Linked DNA regions of Homo sapiens: regions 1, 2, 3 and 5 are each linked to region 4. Evidence: fine-mapped expression QTL. A gene starts in region 4. Each other region holds a variant in brackets. All regions are shown on one strand. Distances are from middle to middle. Region 1 overlaps SNTG2 (syntrophin gamma 2). Region 2 overlaps TPO (thyroid peroxidase). Region 3 overlaps TPO (thyroid peroxidase). Region 4 holds the start of TPO (thyroid peroxidase). Region 5 overlaps TPO (thyroid peroxidase).

Evidence for each region. PIP is the estimated chance that this variant, and not a neighbour inherited with it, causes the effect. A credible set is the group of variants that fine-mapping cannot tell apart.
Region 1: its variant is the best candidate, but not a certain one, in a credible set for the expression of TPO in tibial nerve (GTEx, PIP 0.51).
Region 2: its variant is the best candidate, but not a certain one, in a credible set for the expression of TPO in skeletal muscle (GTEx, PIP 0.82).
Region 3: its variant is the best candidate, but not a certain one, in a credible set for the expression of TPO in T cells (TOPMed, PIP 0.80).
Region 5: its variant is the best candidate, but not a certain one, in a credible set for the expression of TPO in thyroid (GTEx, PIP 0.77).

What each region holds. Positions count from the first base shown.
Region 1 is chr2:1,165,084-1,171,331 of GRCh38, forward strand. SNTG2 (syntrophin gamma 2) reads left to right here. Exons shown (of 17, transcript NM_018968.4): 7 at 465-552. Among named protein-coding and RNA genes, the nearest start is that of SNTG2-AS1, 220 kb to the left of the region's middle. The variant G/A (reference allele first, on the strand shown) is at 3,266.
Region 2 is chr2:1,480,410-1,485,409 of GRCh38, forward strand. TPO (thyroid peroxidase) reads left to right here. Exons shown (of 17, transcript NM_001206744.2): 9 at 4,187-4,445. LALTOP (lung cancer associated lncRNA targeting TOP2A) reads right to left here. Exons shown (of 7, transcript NR_198949.1): 7 at 4,493-5,000. Among named protein-coding and RNA genes, the nearest start is that of TPO, 69 kb to the left of the region's middle. The variant C/T (reference allele first, on the strand shown) is at 2,052.
Region 3 is chr2:1,492,642-1,497,641 of GRCh38, forward strand. TPO (thyroid peroxidase) reads left to right here. Exons shown (of 17, transcript NM_001206744.2): 11 at 1,161-1,398; 12 at 3,348-3,556; 13 at 3,954-4,124. All of the region lies in intron 6 of LALTOP (lung cancer associated lncRNA targeting TOP2A), which reads right to left. Among named protein-coding and RNA genes, the nearest start is that of TPO, 82 kb to the left of the region's middle. RefSeq lists an enhancer at 3,346-3,981. The variant G/A (reference allele first, on the strand shown) is at 2,754.
Region 4 is chr2:1,409,205-1,415,425 of GRCh38, forward strand. TPO (thyroid peroxidase) reads left to right here and starts at 4,259. Exons shown (of 17, transcript NM_001206744.2): 1 at 4,259-4,341; 2 at 5,204-5,298. The coding sequence starts at 5,205.
Region 5 is chr2:1,523,199-1,528,198 of GRCh38, forward strand. The region is part of intron 15 of TPO (thyroid peroxidase); the gene reads left to right. The region is part of intron 6 of LALTOP (lung cancer associated lncRNA targeting TOP2A); the gene reads right to left. Among named protein-coding and RNA genes, the nearest start is that of LALTOP, 100 kb to the right of the region's middle. The variant TC/T (reference allele first, on the strand shown) is at 2,105.

The DNA of each region.
Region 1 (6,248 bases), 240 kb before region 4:
TCCTTTTGAAGTGATAGCCACTAATTTCCTGAGAACTAAAGCATCATTTAAATATTTAAATTAGTATTTGTGGTTTGTTTTGCCACAGTTAATCCATGTTTTGCCAGTGACTGAACACAGGCTGTTTGTAGTAACAAACTGATTTCTCCGAGGGTATTATTTTCTGGTAGATTGCATTCATAGGGATGCAGAGAGCATCCCTGTGATGTGTTGTGGATGATACGGGCAGACCCCTGCTCACTCATGCACTTGTTTACGCAGATAGAGTGTGGGGGGTAGGTGGTCTCGGAGGTGATAACCACTCTTCTTTACTCCAGCTGAAGCCCACAAAGTTTTCCGTGTTTCAGAGGTAACTATGAACTTTGAATTCTTGGGAAACAGGAGAGGTAGAGAGATTTTATTTTTTAATTCTGTGTCTGGTTCTTTTGTGGTGGTAAAAGTAGCTATTTTTGTCATATTGACAGGTGCATCTGCTGAGAAATGCTGGCGATGAAGTTACCATCACCGTTGAGTATCTCAGGGAAGCGCCGGCATTTCTGAAGCTCCCGTTAGGTAAGTGGGAAGAGGAGAAATGCCAGGGTGCTGGAGAAATTCCTTTCTTGCCACATTATTTATCCAAATGCTACCACATGGACTGGGATATTAATCATTTGCTGAGTGTACATTCAGAGAGAAGAAAAGTATAGGCAGGCACCGTGGCATCATGTAGTCCCATGACGTTGTATGTTTTAACACATCCACGGGCTTTTTTGAAGGAAGTGTTATCAGACCGTGCTTCTCGACTGTGCTTCTCGTCACTTAACTACATGCTCGTTCCTTCATGCAAACTCACCATGATTGTATTTATCTATATGTTAACGTAGAAGCAAAGTTTACACGTAAAATACCTATGTTGATCTGAGAAATTTTCAGTGCAAAAAATGAAAATAATGGTACATTTATGCTATGAAGTCCCTGACATATTTTGGCACAAAGCTTGTAATCCTCTATTATACTTGAATTGTGACCCAATATGAAAGTGATGAACCCTAAATCTAGAAAAATGTTTTAGTGAAGATAGTTGTTGTAACTTTTACTAATGTTATTCAGCTGTCATGGCTTTATAAAGGTTGGAGTCACCACCGTTCCTTTGATTTAGCAGAGGGCATCACTGCCCTCTCTTTGTGGGTAATCGGGAAAGGCCTCGAAGGCAAGGCCCAGGCTCCCCTGAAGTCAACATCTGCTGGTGGCTCAAACCCCAGGGCATCCGATGTGGAATGAGGACCTCCCGCTGAGCCGACAGTCGGGTTCCTTCTCATGGGGGCTGGTGGGCTGTCCTTCCTGTCACTCTCTCATGGGAAGGAACAGCTTCCCTCCCTGGGGGTTCATATTGACTGTTTTACTTTCTCTCTCTCTTCCATTGATGTCCCTATTGTCAATGCCTTCCTTCTCTCCTGCCCCGAGTGGCCCGGCTGTAGCTCTCAGGCACATCAGTAGTTGAGTTCTGATCATGCATTGGGTTTTTCACTGATACAGGAGGGGGGCAGGGAAGTGCTGGGAGGAGAAGGGCGGGTCCCTGGCGAGGGCTGCACCCCCAGGCCTGTGCCCATGGACCTAAGTGAGGACAGGCACTCCTGTTCTTGCACCCAAATGTTGCGTTTTCCAGTACCACCCTGGCCTACCACGCCCCCATCCTATGCCTATAACAACCCCAAGACCCTAGTGGGCAGAGACACAAGTGGCCGGATGTGGAGAAGAGCAGAGGAGCGGAAGAGTATGCTGACAGGCACCAGCAGACACTGGCAGGCTATCGACTGGCAGAATGATGTGGAGTTTGGCTGGGGTGGTTGGACGAGACTCCAGGAGAAAACCACCTTGCCACTCCATGCCCCTTCTGGCTCTCCATCCATCTTCTGAGAGCTACCAACACTCCATAAAACCTTGTGCCAACCCTCCAAGCTCACGTGGGATCTGATTCTTCTGGTATGCTAAGGCAAGAACCCCGGGATACAGAAAGCCTTCTGTCCTTGCGATAAGGCAGAGGGTCTAATTGAGCTGATTAACATAGGCCACCCACAGACAGCAGAACTGAAGCCTACAAGCCACCCACGGATGGCAGAACTGAAACCTACAGGCCGCCCACAGATGGCGGAACTGAAGCCTACAAGCCACCCACAGACGACAGAACTGAAACCAACAAGCCGCCCACAGACGGCAGAACTGAAGCCTAGAAGCCACCCACAGACGGCAGAACTGAAGCCTATAGGCCGCCCACAGACGGCAGAACTGAAGCCTACAGGCCGCCCACGGATGGCAGAACTGAAACCTACAGGCCGCCCACAGACGGCAGAACTGAAGCCTAGAAGCCGCCCACAGACGTCAGAACTGAAGCCTACAAGCCGCCCACAGACGGCAGAACTGAAGCCTAGAAGCCGCCCACAGACGGCAGAACTGAAACCTACAGGCCGCCCACAGACGGCAGAACTGAAACCTACAGGCCGCCCACAGACGGCAGAACTGAAGCCTAGAAGCCGCCCACAGACGGCAGAACTGAAGCCTACAAGCCGCCCACAGACGGCAGAACTGAAGCCTAGAAGCCGCCCACAGACGGCAGAACTGAAGCCTAGAAGCCGCCCACAGACGGCAGAACTGAAGCCTAGAAGCCGCCCACAGACGGCAGAACTGAAGCCTAGAAGCCGCCCACAGACGGCAGAACTGAAGCCTACAGGCCGCCCACAGACGGCAGAACTGAAGCCTACAGGCCGCCCACAGACGACAGAACTGAAGCCTACAGGCCGCCCACAGACGGCAGAACTGAAACCTACAGGCCGCCCACAGACGGCAGAACTGAAGCCTAGAAGCCGCCCACAGACGGCAGAACTGAAGCCTACAAGCCGCCCACAGACGGCAGAACTGAAGCCTACAGGCCGCCCACAGACGGCAGAACTGAAGCCTAGAAGCCGCCCACAGACGGCAGAACTGAAACCTACAGGCCGCCCACAGACGGCAGAACTGAAACCTACAGGCCGCCCACAGACGGCAGTACTGAAGCCTACAGGCCGCCCACAGACGGCAGAACTGAAACCTACAAGCCGCCCACAGATGGCAGAACTGAAGCCTAGAAGCTGCCCACAGACGGCAGAACTGAAGCCTACAGGCCGCCCACAGACGGCAGAACTGAAGCCTACAGGCCGCCCACAGACGGCAGAACTGAAGCCTAGAAGCCGCCCACAGACGGCAGAACTGAAGCCTACAGGCCGCCCACAGACGGCAGAACTAACAGAGC[G/A]CCCTGGAACACACTCCCACTAGGGCTTCAGGAGCTGGAAACATCCACCCCTAGATGCTGCCAGGGGTCAGAGCCCCAAAGCCGGCCCATCTCTATGGCACCCCCGCCAGAGGTTTGAGTAGTGGGGCACCGAAGAAGCGAGCCACTCCCCCATCACAAGCCCTGCAAGGGGAACAAGTGAACTTTTCCTGTTTCAGCATTTGATCAAAAGCATCATTAGACTCATAGCATGACTTCTGCTTTCATCTTCCTGAGCAACCAGGAACAAATCCATTTCAGCAACTCCATTTTTCCCATCGATCACAGCAGGATAACTATGCTATTCACAATCTTAGGAAAATCGATCTTCCTGCCATTGTAGCAAACCTGGATCAGTAAGATTCACTGCATGCCTTGCCATCCTCAGAGACCACTCCCTCTGCTAGAAGGAGCCACGGGAGCATGAATGAAGACCTAGAGGGTTCTTGAGGAAAAAGAGTAAGGGGTGCTGAGGGGCTGTGCATGAGAAAGGCGAATATTCCCAGGGCCGTAGAGGCAGAACATGTTAGCAATGGGGCAAAGGTTTAAGGGAGCGAAATGTCACACGCGGCACAGTGGTGCACCCCTGGGGTTTTGAGAAACGTTGCTGTGAGTTGGGAAGGGGGTGGACTTGAGGGCTGCACAGAAGTTCTTGGAGCCAGCAGGGAGACTCAGGTGTCAGACGCACATCAGGAGGCCCAGCAGTGAGCTCGGATGGGGGAGGAGGACTCACTTGTGAGGGGGCAGCGTGAGTGTCTGCAGATTCTGCAGCAGCTGTGACCATACAGGCTCACGAAGGAAGAAACTAAGACTTTTCATAGATTTTTGCCAGAAAGAAAAGAAGAGAAGATAGTGGCTTGGACAGGAGGAGGTGGCATTGATAAAGGAGGAGACAGACAGAAAGCAGGGGGTGCTTTCGGATGTTGCTAAGTGGGGGTGGGAGGCAGAGGACACTCACCCTGGGGCCGTTCCTGACTTCTCTCTCAGGCAAGGTGACTTCACAGGCCGAGTGAGATGGGTGCTGCGTCTAAGCCAGCTTCCCTGGGTGCCTTTGAAGGAGCAGAATTTAAGCAACAGCAGCAGCAACACTGCAACACCAGATGGCAGAGGAAGTGCCCCAGGTGGAGGTTTTCACCGTGAGCCCCTGCCTAGAGCCCCATAGCACTGAGCCTGTGTTTCCCTCTGAGGATGGGCAGCTCTTGCAATTCTAGTGCCTGAGCCTGTGGGGCCGGAGGCTGTCTCTGTTGAGATTCACATCCTGACTTCTGTCCGTGGGCTCCACTAAAACCTGCAGGCTCCGGGGTCCATTGCCAGTCACATAGTGACTTCAATGAGCGTTGCTGCCGGCATCCTGAGCGGGGCTGTGCTGACTCTGATGGCTCTGCCTGGACAGGCCCAGCTACACGGACCACCCCACACGTCCTCGGGCACATGCAGGAAAGGGCAGCCTGGGGTGCAGATCACAGAGGCCAGGGGTGCTGAGTCCCCATTAATTCAATAAGTGTCTATTCTCCTTTTATTTCATTCTTTACAGTGAAAAATGTTAAAATCTTAGTATCCATAACAATTTAAGCAAGACAGCCATAATCTCTCTATAAATTCAGGCGAAACGTCCTCTGCTGAATTCACACCGTGAAGGTAAAATTGCTGTGCCTGAGCAGACTTCACTTTCTGACTGCATGAAGCAGAAATCCACCGAGCAGCTCCAGTGAGTGGGGAAAGAGAGTATCACGGCAGATCTGTGCGGAAAATGTCCAGTTTCCACATTTTAAAACGTTTATCAAAGAGAAAATAAACAACCGTTTGAGACTGAGTCAAAGTAGGGTTTTATTTTTCACAAGTCAGGCTCTTGGTCTTTTTATAAAGATACAATTCATGCAACAGAAAATTCACCGTTTTAAAGTAACACTTCAGCAGTTTTAAATATTTCACTACGTTGTAGAGGCATTGCTACTGTCTAATTCCAAAACATTTCCCTCATCCCAAAAATAAACCCTGTGCCAGTTAGTCAGCCCGGACTCTCCCCACCCCAGCCCTCGGCAGCCGGGAATTTCCTTCCTGTCTCTTTGTGGGTAATCAGGAAGGGCCTTGAAGGCCAGGCCCAGGCTCCCCTGAAGTCAACATCTGCTGGTGGCTCAAACCCCGTGGCATCCGACCTGGAATGAGGATCTCCGTCTGCGCCGGACGTTTTCTGTAATGGAATCCCGCACAAAGATGCCTTTGTGTCTGGCATCTTCCCCCAGTGTAGTTTCAGAGTCCGCCCCCAATGTCGCGGGCATCGGTGCTGCATTCTCTTAGCTGAACAGCATCCGTCCTAGGGAATATATCTGTGTATACGGACCCATGTACATACCCTTTGTATGGGTTTTGTTTATCCATTCATCAGCTGATGGGCATTTGTCTTGCTTCTGTTTGGGGGATATTGTGAATTATACCACCATGAGCATCCGTGAATGCGTTTTTCTTGGGAGATGTTTTCCTTCCCACCGAGTGGATGCCGACTACTGGAATTGCTGGGTCCTCTGGTGACTCTAGGCTCAACTTTTTGAGTGGCTGCCAAATTATTTTCCACAGCAGCCGCACCATTTTACATTCCAACCAGCATTGCCTGAGGGTAATCTAAGCAGTTTTGATAGGTTAGGGTTAATTTTTTTTAAGATTAGGTGTTTTAATAAACATTGATCATATACTACATGTTTTCTAATATGATTGTTTATTTTTGACACCTAATAAAAATAAACTAAGTCTATTTTTCTCATTAAGAATTCTTGATATTGGGTTTTAAAAAATAATGGACTTTTATTTGTGATAGAAGAAAGATATAACTATTCACATTTCTGTTCTGGGATATGGATGACAAGATACCTATTCATCAGAAATAAATTTATAGAAATTTAGAGTGGAAGCGTGACTGTCAAATGTAAATTTATTGACTATTTACCTGTTAGCTCATTCAGTCAATGGT
Region 2 (5,000 bases), 71 kb after region 4:
TCTCTCCCTGGTTCTACCGACTCGTAGTTTGGTAACTTTGTAATCTGAATCTCTCTTCTTCTGAAAAACATTAGATAATGAAAAGAGATGCCAGGGCAACCTTATGAAAGAGAAATAGCATCCCCCCCTCTATCACCCCTCAAACCCCCTACACACACACACACACACACACACACACACACACACACACACACACGAGCCAGCCAGGGCCAGGCTAATGCACACATCAGCAAGAGACAGGAAAGGTCATCTCAGAGCCGGGAGTCACAGCTTTCTCCTCCATCTGTCCACACCACCTCCCTCCTCCTTCATCCGTCCAAACCATGTTTCTCCTGCTGCATCCGTCCACACCACCTCCCTCCTCCTGCATCCGTCCACACCACCTTCCTCCTGCTGCATCCGTCCACACCACGTCCCTGCTGCTGCGTCTGTCCTCACCATACCCACTCTAATTTGTCAGGGCCCAACCACAGCCGCCCCCACTCTGAGGATCTTGGCTCCTCTAATTTCTTTTGTCGAAAGCTGAGAGCTATCCCCTCCCTCAGCCCTGGGCCACAGGACTTCTGCTGTGGGCATGTTTGGGAGGGATCTGCAGGGCCGCCCTCTGTGCTGGTTCCTGGGATCCGGCATCTCTCGGGGGACTCGCACGTAGGAAGGGCTGATAAAGTTGCTCTTGCTGGCTTGAGATCCCACAGGACCCTGGATCCATAAGCCCTGCTTCCCACCAGGAGGAACTGAAGCTCTTGCTCTTCAATCCCAGAAAACCCTAGCTGCTTTAGGTGTGTCATAAGACAAGAACTCACAATCAGTTGCTCACTTTGGTGATAACTTTTGTGTTCTACAGACAAGAAAAGAATGAGAAAGGAAACCCTTCCCAGCACAGGTGTGAGGGAGGCAGAGAGGAGGTAGCCATCCTCGGGGAGTCTGGGTGTGCCATCCAGGCAGCATGGAGTTTGGGTTCCACAGGGTGAAAAGATAAAGACATCCCAAATATCTGGCGTGGATGTTTTCTATGCCCCGGCCATCAGATAGCAGACCTATTTCTGGAGCACAGCCTTGATTTCCCCAGATATCCAGGGACCCACAGAAGCTTTGCTTTGGATGTGTGTGGAGGTAGAACCAGACCCCGGAGGGACTGCAGATCTCCCTGGACATCCCCATCCCGGGCAGGCAGATCCATGTCTCGGGGCAGGGGCTGCATCCCTGGGCCACTCGGCTGCTGACCTTTGCTGTAGCTGAGTACTTTTTCAGATTGGTTGCTCTTCCAGAGCAAAGGAGCAGATGGATAAAGTCATGCTTCCAAGGCTGGAAAGAAAGAGAAAGGGCCGTTCCTGCAGTGGGTGCTGTTGCTGCCCCACCCAGGCCCCTTTATCTGCAGGGCCCCATCCCCCAGTGGCCTCCAATGTTGGCTGACAAAGTCTCCTGGTCGTTCCTCTCCAGGGGTAGCTGTGGAGGCTGTTCCCTGCCCTGCAGGGACAGCCAGGCCCCTACCTCAAGGCTGGACCAAGCCCAGGTGCGCCATGCTGCAGGGCTTCCTGCGGAGGAGCACAAGCCAGGCCTGGCTGTGTCACGTCCTTGGGGAGCTGGGTGCCTGCTCAGCCTCCTCCCTGGAGCACCCTCAGCAAGCATATGGGAGCCTCTTATTGGACTAATAGGGCATGTTTGAGAAAATGCTGAGTGATGTTCTGCGTAGAGCAGGGTAGGTGACTTTGAAAGCAGTCGAGAGTCAGAAAGTTCAGAGGAGCCTGTGCCAGGGGCTACGCGGCTGTTTCCCACCGTCGGTGACAAGGATCGCATCTCCAGGTCTCTTCGTCCTGGTCTCCCCGTGTGCTGGGGTCCTGGCTTCCCGTCACCTTCACGCCCATCATTTTCCCAAGTGTGGACCTTTCAGTCATTCCCACTGGTGAGTTGTGAAGGCAAAGAAATGGAGAGTGGCCACAAGTCAGCACCTGGTGGCTTTGGCAGAGGCTGTGGGGAACCAGGAGGCTGGGGTGAGAGCAGACGTGGAGGAGCAGCTTGAAGCAGCCTGGGAAGATGAGGCCTCTACATGG[C/T]ACCGCCAGCAGAGGAAGAAGACATGGCCCACCTGGGAGGTGAGCAGGAGGGGCACCTGACAGCGACGATGCCCCGGTCTCACAGTATGGCGTCTGCCCAGGTCCAATAGTTCAGAGTAACCATTTCCCCCATGCGACCAGGTAAAGAAATACCAGAAGCATTTCCAGAAGAATTGCCATGAAAATTCCAGAGAGCTGTTTACAAGGTTCAAGTGTTTTCTTTTTCTCTTTTTGAGAAAGCATCTCCTCTATCACCTAGGCGGAAGTGCGGTGGTACAATCATAGCTCACTGCAGCCTCAACCTCCTGGGCTCAAGCAATCCTCCACCTCAGCCACCCAAGTAGCTGGGACTACAGGTGTACACCACCACACCTGGCTAATTTTTAATTTTTTAAATTTTTTTGTAGAAACAGAGTCTGACTGTGTTGCCCAGGCTGGTCTTGATCTTGGGCTCAAGCAATCCTCCCACTTTGGCCTCCCAAAGTGCTGGGATTACAGGCGCAAGCCACTGCGCCTGACTCAAGATTCAAGTTTTAAGGCCCCATTGGTCAGAACAATGGGTGCTTCTGCCCAACCTCGACGGCTCCCAGGGGAGGCTGCAGTATCTGAGCCAATCACTTACCAGGGATGTTTCAGATCAGATGAGGAGGCAGTGGGGAAGAGGAGAGACACACTGTTCAGAGCTCTGGCAAGATCAGACACTGAGGAAGTACAGTGTCTGTGAGGCTCTGATGAAGGGCGCAGGTTTCCTCTCTGTTAACAGCTAGCCGGGCACAGGTGGAGCTGCTGAACCTGAGGCTCAGGCCTCAGTTCTCTGCCTGTGCTTGCTGCATCCCCTGGCTCACAAGTCAAACTTCAGGCAGGCAAGAAGGGGAAGAGGTGTCTTCCTTAAAATAGCTTGCACTTGAATTTGAAATTGTCTCAGTCCCTGGGCTAAAAAGAGAGAGGCCTTTTCCTTTCTATTGTAGTGAGAAGAAACCAAAGAATGTTCCAGGGAACAGAAGGTGCTGCCTGAGTTCTGAATGTGGGAAGCACACGGACCTTCTCACGCGGTTAGGAGGAGCCCCTTGGACACCTGTGTGGTTCAGAAACGTTGCCACATAAATTGCACCTGAGGTGGAGAGGCTGTTTGCACGATGAAGTCGTGCAACTGCTCTCTGGGATGCTGACCCATAGCACAGTGCTTGGCACCAATGGATGAACTAGCACAGGGACGGAAACCCCACTGGGAAACATTTGGATGCTGCCTTTTCCTCCTTGTCTGTCCAGGTCTCCGAGGTGGAGCGGGACAGCGAGGGCAGGTGCACCTTCAGTGAAGGCCCAGGCCACACAAGACTCACGGCTCTCCCTGGTCTCCCTGAAGGGCCAAATTACGTGCTTAGGAAATGCATTCTGGCACATGGAAGAAACATATTACAAGTGTGTAAATAATATTGGTTATTTTTAAACAATCCACTTGCCTTCCTAAACTGGTAAGCTAAAAGAGAAGATTCATATTCTAGAATTATTCCTATTATGCTTCATTTGGATGCAGTTTATTGACCAAAATATTCCCCTTAAATACCAAAACAACTTGACACTGATTTTTCTGTCTGAAAGAAACACTGTTAAACCTGAAAGTAGAATCTTGGTACATAATTCTCCTGGGACCATGTATCAAATCGTAATTTCCAGGCCCTGTGATTGCAACTGTAATTTTCCATCGACAGAGCTCTCTGCCATACAACATGCTTTGATTTAATCCTCACAAAGGCTCTGGGAATTAGGTATTATTGTTGCTTTGTAGAAAAAGGAACTGCTCCCCACTGTCAATCATCCAGCCAGGAGTCTAGCTGCCCAGCCTGGCCCGGTGGCCATTGTTGGCTCGACAGAGGTGCTGTCTCTTGCCACTGCCAGCCCCATCACCATCCTGGGAAGGAGGCTCTCTAGTCAGCCCTATAAACGCACCTCCTGAATATCCATGAAAAAATCAGCAAGAAGGCATTTCTGGGAAGTTCAGCTGAGGCCCTTATTACAAGACGAGAAGGGTCCAGTTCCCTGGGGCTGTCAAGGAAGATGCTCTTCCACACTGCCGCTCGAGGCGACCCTCCTCTGGTATCCTGGGCCTCACTGAGATGCTTTTCCTATCTGCACAGATCATCACCCTGAGGGATTACATCCCCAGGATCCTGGGACCCGAGGCCTTCCAGCAGTACGTGGGTCCCTATGAAGGCTATGACTCCACCGCCAACCCCACTGTGTCCAACGTGTTCTCCACAGCCGCCTTCCGCTTCGGCCATGCCACGATCCACCCGCTGGTGAGGAGGCTGGACGCCAGCTTCCAGGAGCACCCCGACCTGCCCGGGCTGTGGCTGCACCAGGCTTTCTTCAGCCCATGGACATTACTCCGTGGAGGTGAGTGAGTGCGGTCCCTGCAGCTGGTCCCCATGAACTCTTCCTTCTTTTTTTAATTTTTTTAAATTATATTTTAAGTTCTAGGGTACATGTGCACAACGTGCAGGTTTGTTACGTAGGGTATACATGTGCCATGTTGGTTTGCTGTACCCATTAACTCGTAATTTACATTAGGTATTTCTCCTAATGCTATCCCTCCCCCTGACCCCCACCCCACGACAGACGGGATATGATGATCCCCGCCCTGTGTCCATGTGTTCTCATTGTTCAATTCCCACCTATGAGTGAGAACATGCGGTGTTTGGTTTTCTGTCCTTGCGATAGTTTGCTCAGAATGATGGTTTCCAGCTGCATCCATGTCCCTGAAAAGGACATGAACTCATCGTTTTTTTATGGCTGCATAGTATTCCTTGGTGTATATGTGCCACATTTTCTTAATCCAGTCTAGCACTGATGGACATTTGGGTTGGTTCCAAGTCTTTGCTATTTTAAATAGTGCTGCAATAAACATACGTGTGCATGTGTCTTTATAGCAGCATGATTTATAGTCCCTTG
Region 3 (5,000 bases), 83 kb after region 4:
TGAGACACCAAGAGGCCCAACCTTCTGTCCCATGAAAGCCTCACTGTCCCTGGGGGGAACCAGCCCAGTGCTCACATGTTGCTGTGCGTGTGCTTGTCCAGGACTTCTGCTGGGAGCCTGTGGTGGGCAGGGCGCTGAGAGTAGAACCAGACAGTCTTAGCTAAAGCACCACACAGGGCGGGTGGATGAGTAGAGACAGTAGCAGAGGCCCTGGGCGGCGCTCTGATCAGAACCCGTGGGAGTGAGGGTCGCCCATCCTTGAGGAGGGAGCACTTCTGGAGGAGGTGACAGCTGAACCAAGAGGAGTGGATGAGGGACGAAGGCAGATGTGAGGAGTGGGGCACAGGGAGGGGCACGAGTGTCAGGCAAAGGCGCAGCCACAGAGTCAGACCATGGACGGGGGCCTGGGCAGGGAGCAGCTGAGGCGTGGGTCAGTGAGCAGGAGGAGGAGTGAGAAGAGAGGCCAGGGATTCACCAGGGCTCCCAGGAAGAAAAGATCTCCAGTCTTCAATATGGAGATGAGTGGCCAGACAGATAAAGATATTTGTGTGTGTGTGTGTGAGTGGGTGGGGGGGGGGGTGCTGGCTTCTGTGTGTGCTCCTGATGTCATTGTGGGAGGCAAACTCTGAAGAGGATGCAGAGCTGTGTCAGTTGCCCTGTAGAGGCAAGAACTAAGTGCAGGCTGGGCAATAACAGGAATGCACTTAGATGTCACGGACTCAGCATTCTTGCTGTCTCCAGCTCCTTTATGAACAAACCTGCAAAAAGAGCTCTGGCGTCCGAGCTGGAACATTCTAGCCTGGCAAACTGCCGGGCAGTGTCACAGGGTGGGACAGGACTCTGCCCGGCATCTGAGCTGGAATATCCTAGCCTGGCAAACTGCTGGGCAGTGTCACAGGGTGGGACAGGACTCTGCCCGGCATCCGAGCTGGAATATCCTAGCCTGGCAAACTGCCGGGCAGTGTCACAGGGTGGGACAGGACTCTGCCGGGCGTCGGAGCTGGAATATCCTAGCCTGGCAAACTGCCAGGCAGTGTCACAGGGTGGGACAGGACTCTGCCCTGCTGCGCTTCCAGTCTCGGGGACCATGGCATGAGTGAGATGGGCTGAACAAAAGTTCAGTTCTGTGAGAGAAACCCTGCAGCCTCTCCCCTGTGCAGGTTACAATGAGTGGAGGGAGTTCTGCGGCCTGCCTCGCCTGGAGACCCCCGCTGACCTGAGCACAGCCATCGCCAGCAGGAGCGTGGCCGACAAGATCCTGGACTTGTACAAGCATCCTGACAACATCGATGTCTGGCTGGGAGGCTTAGCTGAAAACTTCCTCCCCAGGGCTCGGACAGGGCCCCTGTTTGCCTGTCTCATTGGGAAGCAGATGAAGGCTCTGCGGGACGGTGACTGGTACGTTCCTATCCAGAGCGTCTTCCTTCACGTTCTGCACAGAGGCAGGTGGTCTGCGTTGGTTCTGAAGCCAGCCAGACCTGCATTCACATTCCGGCTCCACCATTCAACTCTTACGTAAGCCTGGTCAGGTTGTTTCTCCCACCCACAGCTTCTTTAACCTAGAACAGTGTTTTTATAACAATGAAGCAACTACGAAGCACGTAGCACTTAGAATGGGAGCTAGCACTGATTTTTCCTAGATCCAACCACACGAGCAAGCAGGCACCTAACTAAACAAATTGTGACACAATCGTGACAGCCCGGAGACTGCATCCCATCCCTCACGTCCCATGACAATGCCCGGGAAAGCGCAGAGGTGGACAGTGACTCAGGCGCAGACACAGGCCATGCCCGGTGCTCATGGATGCCTCTAGGCTGGACAGGACTTCCCGGCCCCCCAGACCCCACCTACAGATAGCAGATGGTTGCCGGTAGCAGAAAGCTGAGGTCCCGCTTTGCCTGCCTCATGCATGTCTGCTCCCTCCTCAAGTTCAACCTAGAATTTGGAGGTTTGTACTGGAGGGAGTCAGAGGCAGATCCTGTTCCCATCTGACTCTGAGTGCATGCCCCCCGTAGAAGCAGGTGCGCAGGATACCAGTGTTAGGATTTTGGAACAACACAGACAAAAGCAATAGGAAAATGTTTTCTTTTGCTTTTAAATACATCCCTACCTATCCAATTCTCTCTCTATTTTTGGTAGTCACTGTGCCGAGGTCAGATTTTTGTTGTAAAGGATCTGTGTTCTTCCCAGAGAGTGCACCTGCCACACGCTGGGGCTCCTGTCCTTTCCCCAGTGTGACTTTTATCTCTAATTTCTGAGATGCAGCCTTTCAAAGAGCTACGAACACCTGGGTAGAAATCACCAGGAGAACTTGTCTCCCTTATAGCTGTGTCTTCAGCAAACGTGCGGTTTGGAATTCTCTGGGACATGGGAAGCCACTCGCTCAGAAGGGGGAAGATTTCACCAGCTTGCCCCATACGTGTGTCTCCCATGCGTGTTTTATGCCACCTGTGGCTGAAGCGCCATCTGAAATCAGTGCAGAGGCAGCTGGCAGGTTCCTAGGGTGGTGCCCCCAATTTCTCATCCTATGTATTTATGACCACATATCTCCCCAATGCAAAAATGGGATCAATTAACTTACGTATAGTGGGGCCTCTTTTTCATGTTCTAAGAGGAATTCATCCCTGTGATGGGAAGCAGAAGAGTTTTACGTGGCAGGGGAGATGCACATGGGAGATGCATGCTTTACGGCATTCAGGCCAGGAGCTATTGGGGCTTTGGCAACTATTTTCATATTTTGAGAGGAAAGTGG[G/A]ACTTCATTTCTTCACATTGCAATTTTTCTGATTAATCATGGCCTGGAGGAAGAAGCTGAAGGTAGAGAGACTGTGCAGGGCACGTTGACTTCAGAATAGGAGCACCCTCTAAAATAGCTGGATTTGCTGTCATCATTCTTGTTTTTAACACAGCAATACACCCCAGATAACAGCAATGCAGCAAAATAGATGCTCATAGTCAACAAGCAAAGTGGCTCTGAGCCCCTCTTCTGAGGCCGCTCGTTCAGACAGCCAGGTGCACGCTGTGCTGCCCCTCCACATCTCCTTCGGGTCCTCAGTACCTGCACCTGAGTGGTCCCGGGTGCTCAGGGGTCTGGGCAGACGCCACAGGGTCTCCTTCAGGTCCTCAGTGCCTGCACCTGAGTGGTCCCGGGTGCTGGGGGTCTGGGCAGACGCCACAGGGTCTCCTTCAGGTCCTCAGCGCCTGCACCTGTGTGGCCCCGGGTGCTGGGGGTCTGGGCAGACGCCGCAGGAGAGGCTGGCAGCACACAGCTGTGGGCAGCTGGTCTTGAGTGCCTGCCCTGGGGGTTCTCCATGCACTGTGACCTTACTCACTGTCTCCTTCTCTGGAGGTTTTGGTGGGAGAACAGCCACGTCTTCACGGATGCACAGAGGCGTGAGCTGGAGAAGCACTCCCTGTCTCGGGTCATCTGTGACAACACTGGCCTCACCAGGGTGCCCATGGATGCCTTCCAAGTCGGCAAATTCCCCGAAGACTTTGAGTCTTGTGACAGCATCACTGGCATGAACCTGGAGGCCTGGAGGGAAACCTTTCCTCAAGGTGAAGTTCGGTCTCCTCTCACACCACGTTACAGCACGTGCATCTCATCAAACAAAGCTTATCTTCCCCAGGAGCTGATTTTAACTTTTCACTGTTTAGAAAATAGTGTCAACGCCCTGCCTTACACCCTCAGGGCAGCTCCTGGGGCGGGGCGGGGCGGGGCGGGGCCCTTCTCTAGTGAGAAAGGAACTGGAGGCCTAGAGAAAGGGAGCCCGCGGGGCCCGATCTGGGAAGAGGCCGTGTGTGCTGCGTGGGTGCTCAGTGAGTGACCACAGCAGGGCTCCCCGGCCCTGGCACCAGCCCCTCCAGGGCACAAGCGCACCCGTGACAGGGACGTTGGTGTGTGGTTTTCTTTTCTCGTAGTTTGACTACATGTCAACCTGTCCACATTTCATAGACGACAAGTGTGGCTTCCCAGAGAGCGTGGAGAATGGGGACTTTGTGCACTGTGAGGAGTCTGGGAGGCGCGTGCTGGTGTATTCCTGCCGGCACGGGTATGAGCTCCAAGGCCGGGAGCAGCTCACTTGCACCCAGGAAGGATGGGATTTCCAGCCTCCCCTCTGCAAAGGTCAGTCCTTTCTTCAATGACAATTACAAAACATCTGAATGTTTCCGATATAAGTTAACAATGCAATGTCATTGAAAATTTCTTCGCCAAAAGGTGCTTCTGAAACTGTTATCTTCCCAGGAGCAATCTGGGGATAGAAAGCAAGGGCTCTCCCCTTGGCTGGCCATGTTCCCAGCTGGCCTTTTTCTAGGTAGTGAGGCCTCAGGACAGGCACGTGGAATCGTGACCAATGGGGTCACCGGTGAGGGAAGAGAGAGGGGAGTCCGTGAGTTCCAGGCAAAGTTGTGGTGAACTCGCAGGGGCGCTTTCTCAAAGGGAACACAGCAGCAAACGTCTCCACTCCAGGAACCCATAGAGTAAGGCTCGCCTCCACCTCCACCTCCTACAGGTGGCTGATTCCCAAGCCCATGCCTGGTCCTCCTCCAGCCACTGGGTTCCACTCCCAGCCTCCCGCATGTTTAGGTGTGGACAAGTGTGGCTTCCTGGCGGTAATTTGAGAGCAGGATGGGGAGGCACCTTTCAGGCCGCAAGGCAAGACAGCCGTGGGCCACTTCCACCTGCTCCTCCCATGTGCTGGCTTGAGCGGGTGTCAGCCCAGGGCACCTGGGAGCAGGTGTGCTGGACAACAGAGCCTCCCGGGGGGAGAGCCGTGTACTGGGGTTCCTCTGCGGGGAACAGCAGAATGAGAGTCCCCATCTGACTGTTCTGAGGCAGAGCCCTCTGGGTGCGACTCCTGAGGCTGGGGCTTCCTGTCAGAGCAGCTTGCGTCCTCCAACTACTTCAGAACTGCCCTGCCACAAAACCTGGACCGCTGGTTCTGGTCTCATGGGACAGTGGCGTCAGGGCAGGCAGGAGCAGGAATGGCTGCTGTTCTGG
Region 4 (6,221 bases):
ACCTCCTACTCAGAAAAACTGGAGCCATTAAAATGGTTACTGCTGAATGTGGAGCTTTTTGTGGTGTGAGAGAGCCCCATGTTTATTTCCTGAATTTCAATTAACAAAAACCCTCCTGTATTTGTCTTTAGTTTTATCTGACTCATATAAACTGGGAAATTACCTACCTGAGTTTGAACAAAGCTGAATAATTTTTCAAATTTTACAGGGGAATTTAATTAAGTTTGAATGACAGCATTTTATTTTCCAAATTTGTTTTAAAATGAATTGAGCTGTAATAAGAGTTGGAAGATAACACAGAGCTCCCAAACCTCCTTCACCCACCTGCTCAGTGTTAACTCTATGCACGGCCACAGCACAGCAACCAGGACCAGGGAGTGGACGTGGATCCAATGCTGGTGATTACATCTCAGAGCTCACCCTGGTATCCCCAGCTTTTCCATCTGCATCCTTTCCTCTTCCAGGATCCAGTCCTGGCACTGTGCAGCCCACGGCCGTCGGGGGTCATCAGGTCCCTGAGTCTCCTCTCATCCATGTTCATCTCTTAAAAAATAAACTTACAAATTTAAAAATACAAAAAACAGTGCGCGCACACACACACACACATGCACGTGCACATACACACACAAGCCAGGCACCAAAAGACAAACACCTCATGATCTCCCTCCTATATGGAATCTAAAAGTGTCGAGCTCATGGAAGCAGAGAGTGGATGGTGGACACCTAGGGTTACGGGGCAGGTGCGGTGGGGGGCAGGTGTGGTGGGGGCTGGTGCCATGGGGGGGACAGGTGCCGTGAGGGGCAGAAAGATGCTGGTCAAAAGTGAGGGTTTCAGTTGCAGGATAAAAATGTTCTGGGATCTAATGTATAGCTTGATGACTATTGTTTATTTGAAAATCGCTAGGAGAATAGATATTAAATGTTCCTATCACACACACAAAAGGATGAATACGTGAGGTGCTGTATATGTTAATTAGCTTGATTTAATCACCCCACAGTGTTTACATGTATGAAAACATCATGTGAACATAAATATGTATAATTTGTATTTGTTAATGATAGCTTGATGAAGCTGGGGGCGAGGAAAACAAAAACTAAAAAGTGAATGGCAAGTAAAAAAGGCAACATCAGGCTGTAGTTTGAAGAACACAAGGCAGTCAGGCCCTGGCCACATGTCAGGTGAGTCAAGTGTGAGCCCACCCTGGATCCCTTTTCTGTTACAGTCACAGGCAAGGGCCTATTACAGGTGGTCCTGGGCCTCGGTTAGGGAGAGCCTCTTGTCTGTGGACAGAACACACGATGTCTGCAGGGAGAAAGGTGGCCTTTCTATGGAGACATCAAGCAAAATGTGTGATTTGCTGTTTCTCATGCATTGATCAAGGTATTCAGTAATCAGATTTCCCCAGGATATCAAATAGTTCATTGGCACTTGCCAAAAAATGGAAGCGTGCTTGTCTTCTCGGTGGGCCCGGGACTGGACCGCAGGGCTGGTGCCACTCCTTCACTGAGACCTGCTTGTAGCAGGGCCCTGCATTCCCCCATCCTGCCATGTGTGAGTTGGCTTCTTACTGTATCATGCGTTCCTTGCAGATTTCTGTCTTCTTTGGAGCTCCTTGATTTTTCTCATAATGGGAGAAGACGTGTATTTTTTTCTTTCCTTCTCATGGCTAAAACTGTCCTCTTTCTCACTGAGTCTCCCCTGCAATCTCTCTGCTCTCCATTGCTGGGTGGCCACGTCTTCCCAATGCTCCTTTCTGACAGAGACTGGGGGCTTCAGCCAGATCTTTAGTTGCCTCTCTTTCATTCTCCCATTATGTGATAGCCTCGGGTTTTCCACGTCCCCCTGCAGAAATCTTCCTTCCCAAGTCCCCCGTCTTCTTTCTCAAAAATGTGTGTGCTATCCAGTGGGCCTCCTGCAAACCCGCCATTCTCAGACTTTTCTCCGCTCCCCTCTCAACATTTCCAGTGTAACAGCTTCCATTGTACTTGATGCATTATTTATATTGTTTAATTAGTATTAAAATAAGCACATCATGTAATCCAGCTAAAATATGTATTTTCAAATGATAGATACATTTCTCATATTTGTGCGGGGTCAAATGGTAACAGCAACTTAGAGGAGAGGCTACAAAACGACCTGGAGAGTTGATGTGCCGGCTCGGCCTCCCCCAGCTGTGCATGCAAACCCCCTCTTCCCAGGTCTCCATCGGCACTCGGCATTTTCAAGCGTCCTTCTGTGATGAAAAGAGCATCCAGTCAGTATTTACTTTACATTTTAATGCTTTCTTCTTCAAACTCTTCCTTGAGTATTTGCCCCACGCTGTCTCATTTTACCACCCACCTTTCTGGCTGTGTGAATTTCCTGCGAATGCCTTAACAAAGGGCCACGTGCTTAGTGGCTTTACTCCATCAGCTCCGGAGGTCATAGATCCAAATGAGACTTTTGGCAGCAAGGTCCAGGGACAGGCCTGGTTGTGCCTGGAGACCCCAGAGGCCCTGCTCCTGGCCTCCTCCAGTTTCTGGAGGCTCATGGCCACGGCCCTCCAGTCTCAGTTTCCATCATCACTTCCCCCTTTCTCCCCTCAGACTTTCCCACCTTTGTCTTGTAAGGAGCTGTGTGCTAACACTAAGGCCAGTGGATAATCCAGGCTAATCTCCCCTCCTCAAAATCTTAACTGAATCCCATCTGCAAAGCCCCTTTTGCCATGCAGGTTGCAGTCACAGGCTGGGGGACTGTGTCCCCTAGACGCTGGTGCTCTGAGCTACTCTTGAGGTCTTTTCCATCCACATTCTCCCAAGAAGAATCCCATTCACTCACAGTCCACTACTGTATCCCCCCTCAGGACTCCCAAATGTGTCTTTTTAAGCTGGACTTCACCCAACAGCTGAAAGTACATTTCCAAATGCCCAAGAGCTCACTGCCCGCCTGTGCCACGGGCACCTCCAACACAATTCCAAGCCTGAGTCTGCTGCTCCTTTGCTTGTCACAGCCAGTCTCCTTTCTTCTCTGGCCTTCCTAGGGCCAGTACATGAGATTTTCACTTGCTTAGGCATCAAACCGAGGATGGCTGAATCCTCAGAGGCTCTGTGCTTTTCTTCTGTTCCCAACAGTAACTCATCATTGAGCCATGGAATCCTCTTTAATGAGCCACCGAGTCTGGTCCTTCCTCTCTATCCAAACCCCACCCTCCTAGTGACCATTCTCAGGGTGCGTGGGGGGATTATATCACTGTTGGCTGATCTCCTCCCTGCTCTTCAGAGCTTGTCTAACTCATTTGTTATCTTCACCCATTTGAGGGGTGAGTGATGAGGATTGAGGGGAGAATGTTAAAGGCAAATCATCACATTCTTGGGCTTCAGAACATCTTCTAACAAAGATTAATGTTCTGAAGCCTTTGCATCGTGTTTTAGCATTTGGTTTCAAATTACCTAGAGGAAGCATCAGTCACATTTGGAGAAGGGAAAGAAAAGGAGAAAGATGAAGATGATTTTCACAAACTAGAAACCCATAGGACTTCCGGGGGCATGAAGAGGCTCCAAGTCTCAGGAGCAGGTCATTGAAGATGTGTTATTTTATCATTTTCATGATGAGATACAGCCTGAAAGCAGATCACCCATGAAAACATGTCATCTCCCAGTGTTCGGAATGCAGTCATGGTGACCTTCCTACAGAACATCTCTGTCTTTGTGGGGACTCTTTTGATGGGTGCATGATGAGGATTGAGGGGAGAATGCATGCTGGTGAACACACACTGAACTGTGCTCATTTTTCACCTCAACAAATTGGAAAAAAGTGTACTTTATTCACCTCTTAGTGATAAGAAAACTAGGGGCTTGGGGACAGGAAGCAAAAGGCTCAGAGTTGTAGAGCGAGTCATCGGTGGGCCTGGGAGCTGCACCCAACCCAATCCTCGGAAGATTAACAGCCCCTTTTTCACAGGGTATTTAACTGTGAAAGTAAGAGGGAGGAAAATGCAAGTGTCACAAGTCTGGATTTAGTTGGTTTATTCTTTCTCCCTGTATAATTTTTCCCCTCTTCTTCCTAACTCATTCGGCCAGAGGCTGGACTGCATGTGGACCCCGATGACATGGCACTTTGTTTCTGACCAGTCAGGACACACAAGAGGCCCGGCGCAAACACAACAAAGCCCGCAGACATTCTGTCCCCACGAAGAACGGACGCCACTCGACTTCCTAGCATCTTGACGGGCTATCCAAGCGCGGAGTCAGTTTATAAGGTGGGTAACCAAGTCCCTGGAAGGCAATTAAGGCGCCCATTTCAGAAGAGTTACAGCCGTGAAAATTACTCAGCAGTGCAGTTGGCTGAGAAGAGGAAAAAAGGTCAGGTTGTAAAGCTTTTTATTTTTCCATTTTCTAAGAGAAATTCATCATTGGAACTTGTAAAGTGGCCCAAGAGTGGCTGTAATTTGGGCCATTATAGCAGGTATGGGTGGCGTCTCTCAGCAAAGCTGACTGACTGACTGATGAGTGCTGTTTGCAATGACCTCCGCTGGAACATGTGAGTCCTGTAGGGTCGATTCCTAGATCACCGTCTACTGAGACACATTCCTGTCAGCATGGACTCACTGGTGCTATCCTGCTTAACAAAATTAGTGGCTCAAAAATAGCCACAGAAAGCCTAAGAGAAGAAAACAAGGATTTGAAAGTAGAAATGATGAATTTTGAATCTTCTGTTTTGTCTTAACAACTAGAATTCTAAAATCATTTTATGGACATAAGAATGCTTTAAGAAATTCAATAGGCATTTAGGGGTTTTATTTATCACTTTTATAAAGACTAAATTTCTAATAGTACTCACTTTTTGCCACATAGATGCATTAGGGGAAACAGATTTTTTTCATTCCCAATAATTATTCCCAGTACTGTTACACTATTTGACATTACCAAAAATTTAAATAGGTTATTACTGAGATATATTGGCAACTGGAGCTGCCAACATAAAAACTCTGTTTTTGAATAATGGGGGCCTGGGAGGCCTGCTCAGCGCTGCAGTTTCTGTAACCTCCTGACATGGACGGCGACTCTGGTCTCGCAGACCCCAGGCCTGTGAGGGTCGCTCACTGCGGTAGAGGCTGCGTGGAGTCAGTGGAGGGAGCCCCTCAGCAGGGAGACAAGGACACAGCGGTTCCCATGGCCTTGTCAGTGCTTGATTACATACTCTGTCTCCTTCCGTTAATTTTAGAATGAGAGCGCTCGCTGTGCTGTCTGTCACGCTGGTTATGGCCTGCACAGAAGCCTTCTTCCCCTTCATCTCGAGAGGGAAAGAACTCCTTTGGGGTAAGTAGCAAACACATTGCGGTCTTCTGGCCTTATAAAGTTATTTTTCACACTTACTAAAATAGAGGGCATAATGGTAGCTCCTGAGAGTCACTTTAGGCCCCTGTAGTGTATGCTTTGTTATGCTTAAGAAAAAAAAATTGTAATTCTTGATTTTAGAAGGATTGAAATATGTACATTTCTTTCTTTAAAAAAGAGCTGATTTTCCTTGGATGACACAATAGACAATTTTCACTTTTACCTATTCATATAACTGAAAAAAAAATTCTTTGGGAGTGTTTTTCTTCCTTTGCTACAGAATTATTTTTTATTAAATAACTTCTGTGATGTATTTTCTGGAATCAGTGTGCTACTATGTGAAAACAAGTTAAGAAAGCTACTGAGATGCAGTGGTTAAAATAATCACAGATCAAGCTCTTTGCTTTTCTTTTAATAAAATAAATAAAGTTCCAAACCCTGAGAACAAGTTTCACTGGAGTGAATACTGCAGGGGCATTTGCCTGGACATTTTACCCCATGGACACCGCTGGCCCCGGGAGCAGGTGACACCTCGCTGGGCAGGTCCCTGGGCCTCTGCACACAGTCCCGGGGCCCCTGGAGCAGGTGACACCTCGCCGGGCAGGTCCCTGGGCCTCTGGACACAGTCCCAGGGCCCCTGGAGCAGGTGACACCTCGCCGGGCAGGTCCCTGGGCCTCTGCACACAGTCCCGGGGCCCCTGGAGCAGGTGACACCTCACCGGGCAGGTCCCTGGGCCTCTGGACACAGTCCCGGGGCCCCTGGAGCAGGTGACACCTCACTGGGCAGGTCCCTGGGCCTCTGCACACAGTCCCGGGGCCCCTGGAGCAGGTGACACTTCGCCGGGCAGGTCCCTGGGCCTCTGGACACAGTCTCGGGGCCCCTGGAGCAGGTGACAGCTCACCGG
Region 5 (5,000 bases), 110 kb after region 4:
TGCAACCTCCCAAATCCCCCCACTTTGAGCAACCTCCCCAAATCCCCCCACTGTGTAAAACCTCCCCAAATCCCCCCACTGTGAGCAACCTCCCCAAATCCCCCCACTGTGAGCAACCTCCCCAAATCCCCCCACTGTGTGCAACTTCCCTAAATCCCCCCACTGTGTTCAACCTCCCCAAATACCTCCCATTGTGTGCAAACACCCCAAATCCCTCCCACTCTGTGCAACCTCCCCAAATTACCCCCACTGTGTGCAACCTCCTCAGTTCCCTCCCACTCTATGCAAACTCCCCAAATCCCCCCGACTCTATGCAACCTCCCCAAATCCCCCCCACTCTGAGCAACCTCCCCAAATCCCCACCACTCTGTGCAACCTCCCCAAATCCCCCACACTGTGTGCAAACTCCTCAAATCCCCCTACTGTGAGCAACCTCCTCAAATCACCCCCCACTGTGTTCAACCTCCTCGAATCACCCCACTGTGTGCAGCCTCCCCAAATCCCCCCCACTGTGTGCAACCTCCTCAGGTCCCCCACTGTGTGCAACCCCCCCAAATACCGCCACTGTGTGCAACCTCTTCTAATCCCCTCACTGTGTGCAACCTCCCCAAATCCCCCCACTGTGAGCAAACTCCTCAAATCCCCCCAACTGTGTGTGAGCTCCCCAAATCCCCCCAGTGTGTACAACTTGCTTAAATCCCCCCAACTGTAATCAACCTCCCCAAATCCCCCCTACTGTGTGCAACCTTCCCAAATCCCCCCACTCTGTGCAACTTCCCCAAATCCCCCCTACTCTCTGCAAACTCACCAAATCCCCCCCACTCTGTGCAACCTTCCCAAATCCCCCCCATTGTGGGCAACAACACCAAATCCTGCCACTGTGTGCAACCTCACCAAATTCCCCCCACTCCGTGCAACCTCCCCAAATACCCCCAACTCTGTGCAACCTCCCAAAATCCCCCAAACTGTGTGCAACCTCCTCAAATCCCCATCCTGTGTGCAACCTCCTCAAATCCACCCCACTGTGTGCAACCTCCTCAAATCCCCCCACTGTGTGCAACCTCCTCAAATCTCCTCACAGTGAGCAACCTCCTCAAATCCCCACACTGTGTGCAACCACCCCAAATCCCCCTACTGTAAGCAACCTCCCCAAATCCCTCCACTCTGTTCAACCTCCCCAAATCCCCCCCACTCTGTGCAACCTCCAACTTTCCCTCCCATTGTGTGCAACCCCCCCAAATCCCCCCACTGTGTGCAACCCCCCAAATCCCACCCACTGTGTGCAACCTCCTCAAATCCTCCCACTGTGTGCAGCCTCCCCAAATCCCACCCACTGTGTGCAACCTCAGGTCCCCCACTGTGTGCAACCCCCCCAATCCCCCTACTGTGTGTAACCTCCTCAAATCCGCTCACTGTGTGCAACCTCCTCAAATCCCCCTACTGCCTGCAACCTCCTCAAATCCCCCCACTGTGGGCAACCTCCCCAAATCCCCCCACTGTGTGCAAACTCCCCACATTCCCCCCAGTGTGTGCAACCTTTACAACTCTACTCACTGTGAGCAACCTCCCCAAATCGCCCCACTATGAGCAGCCTCCTCAAATCCCCCAACTGTGTGCCACTTCCCCAAATCCCCACATTCTGAGCAACCTCCCCAAATCCCCCCACTGTGATGTAACCTCCTCAAATTGCCCGCACTGTACAACCTCCTCAAATCTCCCCCGCTGTGTGCAACCTCCTCAAATCCCGACTCTGTGCAACCTCCCCAAATCCCCCCAGTGTGTGCAACCTCCCCAAATCCACCCAACTCTGAGCAACCTCGCCAAATCCCCCAACTCTGTGCAACCTCCCCCTATCCCTCCCACTGTGTGCAACCCCCCCAAATCCCCCTACTGTGTGCAACCTGCTCAAATCCCCAAACTGTGTGCAACCTCCCCAAATCACCCTCACTGTGTGCAACCTCCTCAAGTCCCCCACTGTGTGCAATCCGCCCAAGTCCCCCCACTGTGCAACCTGCTCAAATCCCCTCACTGTGTGCAACCTCCCCAAATCCCTCACACTGGGTGCAACCTCCTCAAATCCCCTACTCTGTGGAACCTCCTCAAA[TC/T]CCCCCCACTGTGTGCCTCCTCAAATCCCCTCACTATGTGCAACTCCACCAAATCTCCCCCACTGTGAGCAAAACCACAAATCCCCCCAATGTGTGCAACTTCCTCAAATCCCCCCACTGTGTGCAACCTCCCCAAAACCCCCCACTGTTTGCAACACCCCCAAATTTCCCCCACTGTGAGCAAACCCCCAAAACCCCCACTGGGTACAACCTCCTCAAATCCCCCCACTGTGTGTAACCTCCCAAAATCCCCCCACTGTGTGCAAACCCCCCAAATCTCCCTATGACCAAAACCACAAATCCCCCCACTGTGTGCAACCTCCTCAAATCCCCCCAATGTGTGCAAGCCCCAAAATCCCACCCACTATGTGCAACCTCCCCCAAATCCCCCCGACTCTGTGCAAACTCCCCAAATCACCCCCACTCTGCAAACTCCCCAAATCTCACCCCACTGTGGGCAACCACACTAAATCCCGCCACTGTGTGCAACCTCACCAAATTTCCCCGTGTGCAACCTACCCAAATGCCCCCCACTCTGTGCAACCTCCCAAAATCCCCCACAATGTGTGCAAACTCCTCAAATCCCAATACTGTGTGCAACCTCCTCAAATCCCCCCACTGTGCGCAACCTCCTCATATCCCCCGACTGTTTACAACCTTCCCAAATCTCCCCACTGTGAGCAACCTCCCCAAATCCCCCACTGTGTGCAACCTCCCCAAATCCGCCCACTGTGTGCAACCTCCCCAAATCCCCCCACTGTGCGCAACCTCCCCAAATCCTCCCACTGTGCGCAACCTCCCCAAATCCCCCCGACTCTGTGCAACCTCCCCCATCCCTCCATGTGCAAACCTCCAAATCCCCCCACTGTGTGCAACCTCCTCAAATCCCCCCACTGTGTGCAACCTCCTCAAATCCCCCCGATGTGTGCAACACCCCCAAGTCCCCCCCACTGTGAGCAACCACCCCAGTCCCCCCACAGTGTGCAAACACCCCACATCTCCCCCACTGTGAGCAAAACCACAAATCCCCCCAGTGTGTGCAACCTCAATTCCCCCCACTGTGTGCAACCCCCCAAATGCCCCCCAATGTGAGCAACCCCCCCAAATCAACATGCTGTGTGAAACCTCAAATCCCCCAACTGTGTGCAACCTCCCCAAATCCCCTCCACTGTGTGCAACCTCAAGTCCGCCACTGTGTGCAACCCCCGCAAATCCTCCCAGTGTTCGCAACCTCCTCAAATCCTCTCACTGTGTGCAACCTTCTCAAATCCCACGCCACTGTGAGCAACCTCCACAAATCCCCCCAACTCTGTGCAACCTCCCCAAATCTCCCCAGTGTGTGCAACTTCCCTAAATCCCCCAAACTGTGTTCATCCTCCCCAAATCCCCCCCCCACTGTATGCAACCTCCCCAAATCCCACCTAATGTGTGCAACATCCTCAAATCCCCACCACTCTGTGCAACCTCCCCAAATCCCCCCCAATCTATGCAACCTCCCCAAATCCCCCCCAATCTATGCAACCTCCCCAAATCCTCCCCACTCTGTGCAACCTCCCCAAATCCCCTGCTTTGTGGGCAATGTCACAAAATCCCCCGGTGTGTGCAACCTCCCCAAATCCCCTCCACTCTGTGCAACCTCCACAAATCCCCCACACTCTGTGCAACCTACTCAAATCCCCACACTGTGTGCAACCTCCTCAAATCCCCCCCACTGTGTGCAACCTCCTCAAATCCCCCCACTGTGAGCAACCTCCTCAAATCCCCTCACTGTGTGCCACCTCCCCAAATCCCCCCACTTTCTGCAACCTCCGCAAATACCCCCACTGTGTGCAACCTCCTCAAATCCCCCCACTCTGTGCAACCTCCCCTATCCCTCCCACTGTGTGCAACCGCCCCAAATCCCCCAACTATATGCAACCTACTCAAATCCCCCCACTGTGTGCAACCTCCCCAAAACCCCCACTGTGAGCAACCTCCCCAAATCCCCTCACTGTGTAACCTCCCCAAATCCCCTCACTGTGTAACCTCCCAAAATACCCCCCGTGAGCAACCTCCCCAAATCCCCGCACTGTGTGCAACCACCCCAAATCCCCCCCACTGTGTGCAACCTCCTCAAATCCTCCGCCACTGTGAGCAACCTCCTCAAATACCCCACTGTGTGCAACCTCCTCAAATCCCCCCATCTGTGTGCGACCTCCCCAAATCCTCCCAGTGTGTGCAACTTCCCTAAATCCCTCCAACTGTGTTCAGCTTCCCCAAATACCAACTGTGTGCAACCTCCTCACATCCCCACCACTCTGTGCAACCTCTCCAAGTCACCCCTACTCTCTGCAGACTCCCCAAATCCCCCCCCAATCTGTGCAACCTCCCCAAATCCCACCCAATTGTGGGCAACCACACAAAATCCCGCCACTGTGTGCAACCTCACCAAATTTCTCCCACTCTGGGCAACCTCCCCAAATCCCCCCCACTCTGTGCAACCTCCCAAAATCCCACACACTGTATGCAACCTCCTCAAATCCCCATACTGTGTGCAACCTCCTCAAATCCCCCCCACTGTGTTCAACCTCCTCAAATCCCCCCACTGCGTGCAACCTCCTCAAATCCCCCCAATGTGAGCAACCTCCTCAAATCCCCCCACTGCGTGCAACCTCCTCAAATACCCCACTGCGTGCAACCTCCTCAAATCCCCCCAATGTGAGGAACCTCCTCAAATCCTCCCACTATGTGCAACCTCCTCAAATCTCCCCACTGTGTGCAACCCCCCCAGATCTCCCCCACTGTGAGCAAAAGCACAAATCCCCCACTGTGTGCAACATTCCTCAAATCCCCGCACTGTGTGCAACCCAACCAAATCTCACCCACTGTGAGCAAACCCCCACATCCCCCCACTGT